Regions from separate parts of the Homo sapiens genome. Here region 2 is linked to region 1. Evidence: fine-mapped expression QTL. Tissue or cell type: whole blood. Region 1 holds a variant in brackets; the other region holds the start of a gene. Each region is shown on its reference strand, or each on the opposite one. Region 1 overlaps CDK6 (cyclin dependent kinase 6). Region 2 holds the start of TLR9 (toll like receptor 9).

Evidence for each region. PIP is the estimated chance that this variant, and not a neighbour inherited with it, causes the effect.
Region 2: TLR9 starts here. The variant in region 1 is fine-mapped to the expression of TLR9 in whole blood (TOPMed, PIP above 0.99).

Annotation. Positions count from the first base shown.
Region 1 is chr7:92,775,738-92,781,112 of GRCh38, forward strand. The region is part of intron 2 of CDK6 (cyclin dependent kinase 6); the gene reads right to left. Among named protein-coding and RNA genes, the nearest start is that of CDK6-AS1, 58 kb to the right of the region's middle. The variant C/T (reference allele first, on the strand shown) is at 3,319.
Region 2 is chr3:52,223,492-52,228,866 of GRCh38, forward strand. TLR9 (toll like receptor 9) reads right to left here and starts at 2,154. Exons shown (of 2, transcript NM_017442.4): 1 at 2,036-2,154; 2 at 1-821. The coding sequence starts at 2,038. TWF2 (twinfilin actin binding protein 2) reads right to left here. Exons shown (of 9, transcript NM_007284.4): 9 at 5,121-5,375. RefSeq lists enhancers at 1,934-2,033, 2,286-2,787, 2,544-2,633, 2,788-3,287.

The DNA.
Region 1 (5,375 bases):
AACAAGAATGTAATATAAATACTAAGAAAAAGCTAATAAAATACTATTCATATTACTTTAATTTTTAAAAAAAATTGAATAAATGCCTTCTTCAAAGAAACTATAAATGTGCATAGAGTCCAATAACTGATGCACAGGGTTGACTATCAATTATCCTGCTTACATATTACCTCCGTTAATTTTTTTTATTATATTTTAAGTTCTGGGATATATGTGCAGAATGTGCAGGTTTGTTACATAGGTATACACGTGCTATGGTGGTTTGCTGCACCCTTCAACCCATCATCTACATTAGGTATTTCTCCTAATGCTATCCCTCCCCTAACCCCCCCACCCCGACAGGCCCTGGTGTGCGATGTTCCCCTCCCTGTGTCCATGTGTTCTCATTGTTCAACTCCCGCTTATGAGTGAGAACATGAGTGTTTGGTTTTCTGTTCCTGTGTTAGTTTGCTGAGAATGATGGCTTCCAGCTTCATCCATGTCCCTGCAAAGGACATGAACTCATCATTTTTTATGAGTGCATAGTATTCCATGGTGTATATGTGCCACATTTTCTTTATCCAGTCTATCATTGATGGGCATTTGGGTTGATTCCAAGTCTTTGCTATTGTGAACAGTGCTGCAATAAACATATGTGTGCATGTGTCTTTACAGTAGAATGATTTATAATCCTTTGGGTATATACTCAGTAATGGGATCACTGGATCAAATGGTATTTCTGGTTCTAGATCCTTAAGGAATTGCCACACTGTCTTCCACAATGGTTGAACTAATTTACACTCCCACCAACAGTGTAAAAGCATTCCTGTTTCTCCACATCCTCTCCAGCATCTGTTGTTTCCTGACTTTTTAATGATTGCCATTCTAACTGGTGTGAGATGGCATCTCATTGTGGTTTTGATTTGCATTTCTCTAATGAACAGTGATGATGAGCTTTTTTTTCATATGTTTGTTGGCCTCATAAATGTCTTCTTTTGAGAAAATGTCTGTTCATATCCTTTGTCCACTTTTTGATGGGGTTGTTTTTTTCTTGTAAATTTGTTTTAAGTTCCCTGTAGATTCTGGATATTAGCCCTTTGTCAGATGGATAGATTGCAAAAATTTTCTCCCATTCTGTAGGTTGCCCGTTCACTGATGATAGTTTCTTTTGCTGTGCAGAAGCTCTTTAATTTTATTCCATTTGTCAATTTTGGCTTTTGTTGCCGTTGCTTTTGGTGTTTTAGTCATGAAGTCTTTGCCCATGCTTGTGTCCTGAATGGTACTGCCTAAGTTTTTTTCTAGGGTTTTTATGGTTTTAGGTCTTATGTTTAAGTCTTTAATCCAGCTTGAATTACTTTTTGTATAAGGTATAAGGAAGGGGTCCAGTTTCAGTTTTCTGCATATGGCTAGCCAGTTTTCCCAACATCATTTATTAAATAGGGTATCATTTCCCCATTTCTTGTTTTTGTCAGGTTTGTCAAAGATCAGATGGTTGTAGATATGTGTCATTCTTTCTTGTTTTTTTTTCCTTTTTGTGAAGGAGTTTCGCTCTTGTTGCCCAGGCTGGAGTGCAATGGCACATCTTGGCTCACCACAACCTCCGCCTCCCAGGTTCAAGCGATTCTCCTGCCTCAGCCAAGTACTACTCCCAACCCGAGTGGCTGGGATTACAGGCATGGGCCACCACGCCCAGCTAATTTTATATTTTTAGTAGAGACGGGGTTACTCCATGTTGGTCAGACTGGTCTCAAACTCCTGACCTTAGGTGACCTGCCCACCTCGGCCTCCTGAAGTGTTGGGATTACAGGTGTGAGCCACCGTGCCCAGCCATGTGGCATTATTTCTGAGGCCTCTGTTCTGTTCCATTGGTCTATATATTTGTTTTGGTACCAGTACCATGCTGTTTTGGTTACTGTAGCCTTGTAGTATAGTTTAAAGTCAGGTAGCATGATGCCTCCAGCTTTGTTCTTTTTGCTTAGGATTGTCTTGGCTATACAGACTCTTTTTTGGTTCCATATGAAATTTAAAGTAGTTTTTTCTAATTCTGTGAAGAAAGTCAATGGTAGCTGGATGGGGATAGCATTGAATATATAAATTACTTTAGGCAGTATGGCGATTTTCACAATATTGATTCTTTGTGTCCATGAGCATGGAATGTTTTTCCATTTGTTTATGTCCTCTCTTATTTCCTTGAGCACTGGTTTGTGGTTCTCCTTAAAGAGGTCCTTCACATCCCTTTTGGGTTGTATTCCTAGGACCTCTGTTAAACTTTTAATGCCTTGCTGGTTCACCATGTCATCCTTCTGCATTTCTGGGCTTTATGGACCCCACATTTGGACTTCTCTGTGAATCTATACTAAATTTTAAAGGAAACGAAAAAAAAAAACCAAAACCAAAAACAAAAAACACTTAACAAAAAAACCCCACCACTGTAATTAGGTTAAATCTGGCAGGTCAAAAAACAGAACACCAACAACTACACATGCTTCATAGCCAGATCCAAGCTTCTTTTTAATTATGGGCAGTTTGGGGTGAATTATACAACTCCATTAAAATTAACCAGAATCCATTGAAAATTTTTTCCTCACATTTATCTACTTCTAAACATTCTGGTTTTTAAGTTTTAATATCCATTCCTAAACTTAATATTTTCCCCTAATGTTACTTATTCTGGAAAATTATTCCAATAAAGTAAAAACTCTTAACAGATTTATTAAAGATAGTACCATAAATCATATTAAGTCTCACACTCTAAAAATATGATTGCTATCATGCATGGATTTAATATGTGGAAAATTTATCAAAACAGTTCTTTTGCCTTGATAATTCAAGATAACTACAACTATTCACAGGCTTTTTTAAGCCAGCTTATTGCTATTAAATCCACATACTTGGACAACTTCACTCTTTTCTTCCTATTGAAAAAGAAAATGGAGTTCCACAATCCCCAACTTTCTTTATATCTGTTGCTTGTATTTTTGTAATAAAATAAAAGAGCAGTGAACCAAAAATGGCATGTCCCTAAAGTCAAATACAAACACAGAGCTGTTTCATACTATGACCATTTCAGTTGTGTTTCTGAAACATTACTTTAAAAATATTTCCCATTATAATTAATATATTTAGTGAAAAAATTACATTGCTTACCACTACCTGGAATCAATAGTAATTTTAGTAACTCCAGTTCTTACTGCATTTATAGTTTATCATATATATATATATATATATATAAGATATTATAGTAATTTCCAAAAGAGAAAAAATTCTGACGGGGGCATAACTGGAGAATAAAGTGATCCTAAAATACTGCTGAAACAAAAAGTCATCTGCCCCCTGGAC[C/T]GTTGTCTTAGAAGTTACCTAACAACCCTGGCAGTATGCCCTGTTGCTTCATCTCACTGAAACCGTTTTCAAGCACTCTTTGCATGACACAATTTAAAAATAACATCTAACCCACCCAAGTTGCTTTCCTCAGAGTTATACTGCTCTCTTCAAAATATTAAGACTCACTGATGCCACCTGCAGCAACTGGACTCCAGGCCTCAGTTTCAATGGATGCTCAAGATACGAAAGGTGAGCTCACTGAAGCCACTACTAATTGTCCTAAATGATAAACCTTGGAGAAAAAAGGACTCATTTCAATCGGTAGTTTTTAAAACATGGAATTTTAAAGAGATGTGTAATAGTCCATAGAGCAGAACATTTTCACATAAATTTTAATGTATATACTTGCATATTCTTAAAAAATGGTATTAGGTAGAAGTGACTCCTCCAGGTTCAAGGAAATAATCCTTTTTAATTTTTAAGGTGCCATTATTATTAACTTCATTCAGGAAATGGAGCATATTAGAGACTTCTCAGACATTCACAAAGGGCATCAAGGGACATCAGAGTCCTAAGGGTGCCTGTAGGATACTCTCTTTTTTGGCTCCAGTGCTGGCTAGCCATCCACATCCTACAGACCTAGTACTCCATGGAAGACATCTGGGGAAATATTGCTCTTCCCAAAACTATGAAATTTTGTCTGACTTAAATTATGTCTGATTAATGGTTAGTAAACATTGTACTAAAAATTAACAGTTATATTAGTCACAATGGGTAGGAAATGCATTTTGAATCAATGGTTGTAAACATTAATCTTAGAAATGCTAGACTATAATATTTATGATGCTTTTTTTTGTCTACAATGACTCCCTCTGGAATTGCCCCAAATCAAATAATAGTCACTTTGGTGGGCAATAAAGAGAAAACAGAAACTTTATTTTTATTCTTATTTTTCTTTTAAGATGGAGTCTCACTCTGTTGTCCAGGCTGGAGTGCAGTGGTGCAATCTTGGCTCACTGCAACCTCCTGGGTTCAAGTGATTCTCCTGCCTCAGCCTCCCGAGTAGCTGGGACTACAGGCATGCACCATCATGCCTGGCTAATTTTTGTATTTTTAGTAAGGATGGGTTTCACCATGTTGGCCAGGCTGGCCTCGAACTCCTGACCTCAAGTGATCCACCTGCCTTGGCCTCCCAAAGTGCTGGGATTACAGGCGTGAGCCACTGTGCCCGGCCAGAAACTTTAATATAACAAATGAGTTTCATATACAACAACTGAGCTAAGCATGAATTAAAATCCCTGGTATTTGGCTAGAGGTAAACAATCTGTAATGTATTTATATAAATCAATAAGGAATGGGGCTAGGCTACCTAGAACCCTTACACTTGCAAAACAAAAGAGCCAGACAGGTCTGAACACTTGAATGTAAAAACTGGAAAATAGGCTGGGCGCGGTGGCTCACACCTGTAATCCTAGCACTTTGGGAGCCCGAGGAGGGCGGCTCACGAGGTCAGGAGATCGAGACCAACCTGGCTAACACGGTGAAACCCCATCTCTATTAAAAATACAAAAAAATTAGCCGGGCGTGGTGGCAGGCGCCTGTAGTCCCAGCTACTTGGGAGGCTGAGGCAGGAGAATGGCGTGAACCTGAGAGGCAGAGCTTGCAGTGAGCCGAGACCGTGCCACTGCACTCCATCCAGCCTGGGCAATGAGCGAGACTCCATCTCAAAAAAAAAAAAAAAACAAAAAAACAAAAAACAACAACAACAACAAAAAAAACCAAAAAAACCCCAAAAAACTGGAAAATAGCTACAACTGCATGATTCCTTATATTGACCAATATTTTAAGACTTTCTAAAACCTTTTTTTAAAAATTTTTGCTAATCTGTAACCTGACAAAAATACCATTTCAAGAATTACATGACAGCAGTTCCATAAGAAAAATGTAATCACAATGTATTGAATATGAACAAAATATCTCAGATGACTTTTAAAGGAAAGGAAAATTACCATTAAATATTTATCCATTAGAGCTTAGCATAATGTGATCCAAGTGAATGTTCAAAAAGTCAAAGT
Region 2 (5,375 bases), not on the chromosome of region 1:
AGCTGGGGGAAGTGACGAGGGCACTCCATGCAGGGGTTGGGAGCGTGGTCGCAGCGGCGGCAATTTCCGCCCACATCGAGCACACGCAGGGCGGTCAGATTGGCCAGGTCCTCAGGCGCCAGTTTGACGATGCGGTTGTAGGACAACAGCAGATACTCCAGGCTGGAAGGCAGGTTGCGGGGCACCACAGTGAGGTTGTTGTACTTGAGTGACAGGTGGGTGAGGTTGCCCAGGCCAAGGAGGGCACCCGGGGCCACCTCCAGTGCCTGCCTGCAGGGGTTCTTGTAATAACAGTTGCCGTCCATGAATAGGAAGCGCAGGGCATGCAGGCCGGCGAGGCTGGCAGAGTCTAGCATCAGGATGTTGGTATGGCTGAGGGACAGGGATATGAGGGATTTGGGCAGCGCAGGCACAGTCATGATGTTGTTGTAGCTCAGGTTTAGCTCTTCCAGGGTGGGCACAGCCAAGAAGGTGCTGGGCTCGATGGTCATGTGGCAGGGGAAGTGCATGGGGCTGAGGCCAACCGGCGGGCAGTTCCACTTGAGGTTGAGATGCCGCAGGCTGGGCAGGTGGGCAAAGTCAGAATCATGGAGGTGGTGGATGCGGTTGGAGGACAAGGAAAGGCTGGTGACATTGCCACGGGGTGCTGCCATGGAGAAGTGGGGCACAGACTTCAGGAACAGCCAGTTGCAGTTCACCAGGCCGTGGGGCTGGAGCTCACAGGGTAGGAAGGCAGGCAAGGTACCCAGGGCCAGGGTCATGGCCAGCATGATGGCCTGCACCAGGAGAGACAGCGGGTGCAGGGCGCTGCGGCAGAAACCCTGTGGGGGTGGGAGGGCTGTGTGAGTGGCCGGCCCCCAGCTCTACCTCCACCCACTCCACTTCATGGGCATCTTCTAGCATCTTCCAACCCCTCTCTCCAAGCCCTACCTGCAGAAGTTCTTCCTGGCTGCCAAGCCCCATTCCCATCCCCCATGGCTTGTGGGGAACCTGAACTCAGTCTCAGACCCAGTCTTGGACTCAGAATTAGGCTTCAGAACCAGGACTGAGACCTAGAATCCAGACTTATGATCTACAGCTTTCACTTAACCAATCCCTGGCTATACCAGGCCAGGCAAGGTGGCCCACGGCCCCCCCTGGTCTCTCCCCGACTTTCCCTTCCTGCTCCTGAGCAAGGTGGCAGCTGGCTCCCTCCCCTCCAGCTGCCCTGAAATCCGCTCTCTGCCCTCCACCAGCCACCCCACAACCCCTTCCTTTTCCTTCGGCCAAGATTCAGGCAGGTGTGAGAGTCTCCCACTATGGCCCAGGCCGGCTGCCTCCCAGGGACCCTGGCCAGAGGGCACTGCACAGCTCCATCACTCTCTGCCTGCCTCACCTAGCCCGAGAGCCTTTGCCTTATGGGTCAGAACAGATGGAGAGAGGGGTGGCCTGCAAAGTGCCAGACAGAGCCAGCCCCAAGCTACAGGCCCAGTGAGACCCAAACCCAGGCTCCAGCCCCAGCTCCATCAGTGCCTCAGTCTCCTCGTCCCCTCTGGGGGTTTGGGTCTCATTGCTCAGAAGAGGGCTTCAGTGGCTGGGCACGGTGGCTCACACCTGTAATCCCAGCAGTTTGGGAAGCCGAAGTGGGCAGATCACCTGAGGTCTGGAGTTCAAGACCAGCCTGACCAACATGGAGAAACCCTGGCTCTACTAAAAATACAAAATTAGCCAGGCATGGTGGCGCAAGCCATAATCCCAGCTACTTGGGAGGCTGAGGCAGGAGAATCACTTGAACCCGGGAGGTGGAGATTGCAGTGAGCTGAGATCAAGCCACTGCACTCCAGCCTGGGCAACAAGAGCGAAACTCCGTCTCAAAAAAAAAAAAAAAGAAAAAAGAAGAGGGCTTCGGCTCTGAAGTCTTCAGGATTCAGTGAGTGTCCCCAGGGCCATGTGGGTGACAACCCGTCACTGTTGCTTGCAGCTGCCAAGCCCACTTCTTTCCCCACCCCTTCCCAGGATATCCCCTTCCCCAGGGGACTGAGAGCTGTTGTCCTACCATGCTGGGGGGCAGGGGCTTCTCCAGAGGGTCTGGCGGGCAGACTGGACAGCAGCTACAGGGAAGGATGCTTCACACTCGAGGTCCCTTCCCACAGGGGCAGCAGCGGCTCAGAGAATAGAGGAAGTAAGATTTTTATACCAGCCTAGTAGCTCCCCCTCCACTCCACCCTGCCCCCAGTGAGGAGGACAGGGTCCCATGAGTCAAAGGCCATTTGCATAGTCAAATGGCAGACAGCTCCTTCACCCCTTCCTCTTTCCACTCCCCTCTCAGACAGCCTACATCCCATGAGGGCCTCACACCTGTCCTCTACCAAGCCCAGGGAGGAGCTAAGGCCCAGAGCTCAGGCAGAGAGCAGGGAGAGATGGGAATTCTGGATAGCACCAGTAGCGGGTACACCTTGCTGGGCACTCCCCATTCTAAGAGGACACTTCCACCCTCAGGTCTTGGCTCCTGCACCACAGCTGGTGCCCTCAGGACAGCGGCTGCCGACTTGTCCTTTTCTGCCCTTGTAGGCACCATCTCCAGAGTTCTGCAGGGCCTCATGCGTGGAGGGCCAGGGTGTAGCTTGAGCAGGAGGCTAGGCTGCACCTGCCTTCACCACAGCCTTGCAACATCTTCCGGAAACAAGACCTCCTCCTCCACATTCCCAGAGCCCCTGGGGCCCCATCAGAGCACACACCACGTCACTCCAGATGGGGCTCCTAGAGGCCAGGTGTGTGCTGGCCCAGCAGGGCCGCCAGCCAGTCCTCCCCATCAGTTCTTCCCACTCTCCTTCTGATCTAGGTGAGGAGACTCAGATTCCTCGGGCCCAAAGCCTTGGGTGACCCCGGGCCCCTCAGCAAGTTCTGCTGGGTCCACCATGCTGAAGGGTGTGCCCACAGCCCACCGTCCCCATGTCCACCAGCCCCCATCCTCTCTCCTAGACCCATGCAGGTGCCACCTCCCTTCTGGCTGTCCTGCCCTGCTCTCTGCCCTCCAGGGGCTGGTCACATTCAGCCCCTAGAGGGAACTGTTCAAACCTAAGTCACACTAGGTCCCTCCTCTGCTCAGACCCCTCCCTGGCTGACTCTGGAGTCAAAGCCACAGTCCACAGATGGCCAACAAGGCCCTATGGGACCTGCCACCCGCTGTTCCCCTGAGTGCTCTCCAGGCCCACTGGCCTGCTTGCAGTTGACTGTGTAGCCCCTGGGCATTCTCCTGCCTCAGGGCCTTGGGATGTGCTGTTCCCTCTGCCTGAAAACTCCCCCAAGTCTCATATGACCCCTCCTTTGCCTCCATTATGTCTCTGCTCCCATGTCACCCTCTCAACAGGGCCATCCAGCCTTCTTACAAACCTCCCACCCCAGATCTGGCACTCCTGAGCTCCTTTGCCTGGTCTATGTTTCTCTTTGTCCTAACATTTTTTAACTGCTAGCACACCGGATCATTGATCTTTCATGGTTTATTGTATATCGTCTTATTCCCCTGCTGGAATGTCAGCTTCTTAAGGGCAGTGATCTTTTATCTGCATCCCCAGGATCCAGTACAGTGCCCAGCACATAGTAAGTGCTTGATATCTGCTGAATTATGTACACCCAGCAGTCAGCTCTGGGCAGGCACAGAGAGGGTATTTCTGAGTGAAGGCTGAATGAATGAATTAATGAATTGTTGCTGCTGGGAGGAGGCAAGGCTGCACATCTGCCAGCCTGCTCCCCCCAGGCCCACTCTGGGTGGTATCATGGCAGGCAGGCTCCATAGTGCCAGGCATCTGGCTGGCTCAGCAGCAGGGGGCGATGGCATCGTCTTCCTGCCCACCTGGGAGCCAATGTTTCGGCTGGGCAAGGACAAGCCTCCTCTGGGTCTTAGCTAGTCTGGCTCTCCTCTCTACAATTCTAGGGGCTTGAGCAGGGGCTCAGAAAGGCGCCAGGGATAGAATGTTGCCCTGAGCCAGGAAGGAGAGCAGTGCCCACTCAGTAGCTGGGCTGCAGGCATCAACCCCATGCTTCCACTCCTGCCTGCCTGGGGTGGAAGGCACCTGCATTCATTCCCTCCATCCACCTCTCAGAGGGATACACCAAAGCTCGGGCTCCTGTGGAGCCCCAAGCCTGAGACTTTCCCAGAGTCCCTTGGACCAGGGACCCAGACCCCCATACCCAGCAGTGGCCCTGCCTTCTTTGGAGGCAGAAAACCAGAGAGGCCAGTAAGCTGACAGAGGGGTCTGCACACACAGGTACAGACCCACGCACATGGACACACTCAGCTTGGAGACACCGATATCGATGTCCACAGAAAAACTTGTCCTGGCCTCAGCCCAGGGAGGCTGGGAAGCCTTCGAGGAGGAGCCCTTATCCCATGTGGGAGGCTGCATAAAGTCCCTCTCAGAGATCCTTGTCCTAATTCCCCAAACCTGCAAACACGTGACCCCAACACCCCACAGTGTGGCAAAAACGACTTCGCAGATGTGATTAAGTTACCCATCTTGACAGGGGTAGGTGGTGGGGGCAGGGAGGGTGAATGCAATTACAATGTCCCTTATGAAATGGAGACAGAGGGAGATTCGACTACAAAAGGCCATGGGAGCCCAGAGGCTGAGGAAAGCAGAATCAGAGATGTCACCTCTGGCTTTGAAGGTGGAGGAAGGGGCCCCAAGCCAAGGAATACAGCCAGAAAAGGCCAGGAGATGGGTTCTTCTGAGGGGCCCAGACACAGCCAGCCCTGCCAACACCTCAACTTTGGCCCTGTGAGACCCATCTCAGTCTTCCAGCCTCCAGAACTGTAAGAGAATACATTTGAGTTTCTTCGAAGCCACTAAGTTGGTGGTAATTTGTTACGGCAGCCTCAGCAAATGACCATATGCAGATCCCTCATGTCACAGTGGAGGCGCGCCTGCCTCTCCAGCAGGGCTCCTGTTGACTGGGAGACCCGCGTGAGGCTGCACGCCCACTCACAGGCACAGCCTCTCCCACACACCTGGAGGTGGAGTGCTGGGGCTCCACCTCGCAGGCCGGCACTCCCCTCTCCCCTGTTGGGAAAGGACAGTTATATGCACAAGACTGCCCAATTCCCAGGGCCAGAGGCGGTCTCTCAGGGCCAAGCACAAGTCTTGATTTAAAAATATTTTATTCTTTAGAAAATACAGCATTCAACCATCCCAAACTGCAGTGACCCCTGCCCCAGCCCTGACTGACCCCACTTCTTGTGGCCAAAGGTTTCTGGGCTGTGCTGGGACCCTAGTCTCAGCTCCCCGGGAGGCCAGGTTCATGCCAGGCCCCTGACCCAGCCCCCTTAAGCCAGCCAGGCAGGGTCCCCGGACACCCTGGGCACACAGACGAGATGCAGGGACAGCAACAGGGAAGGG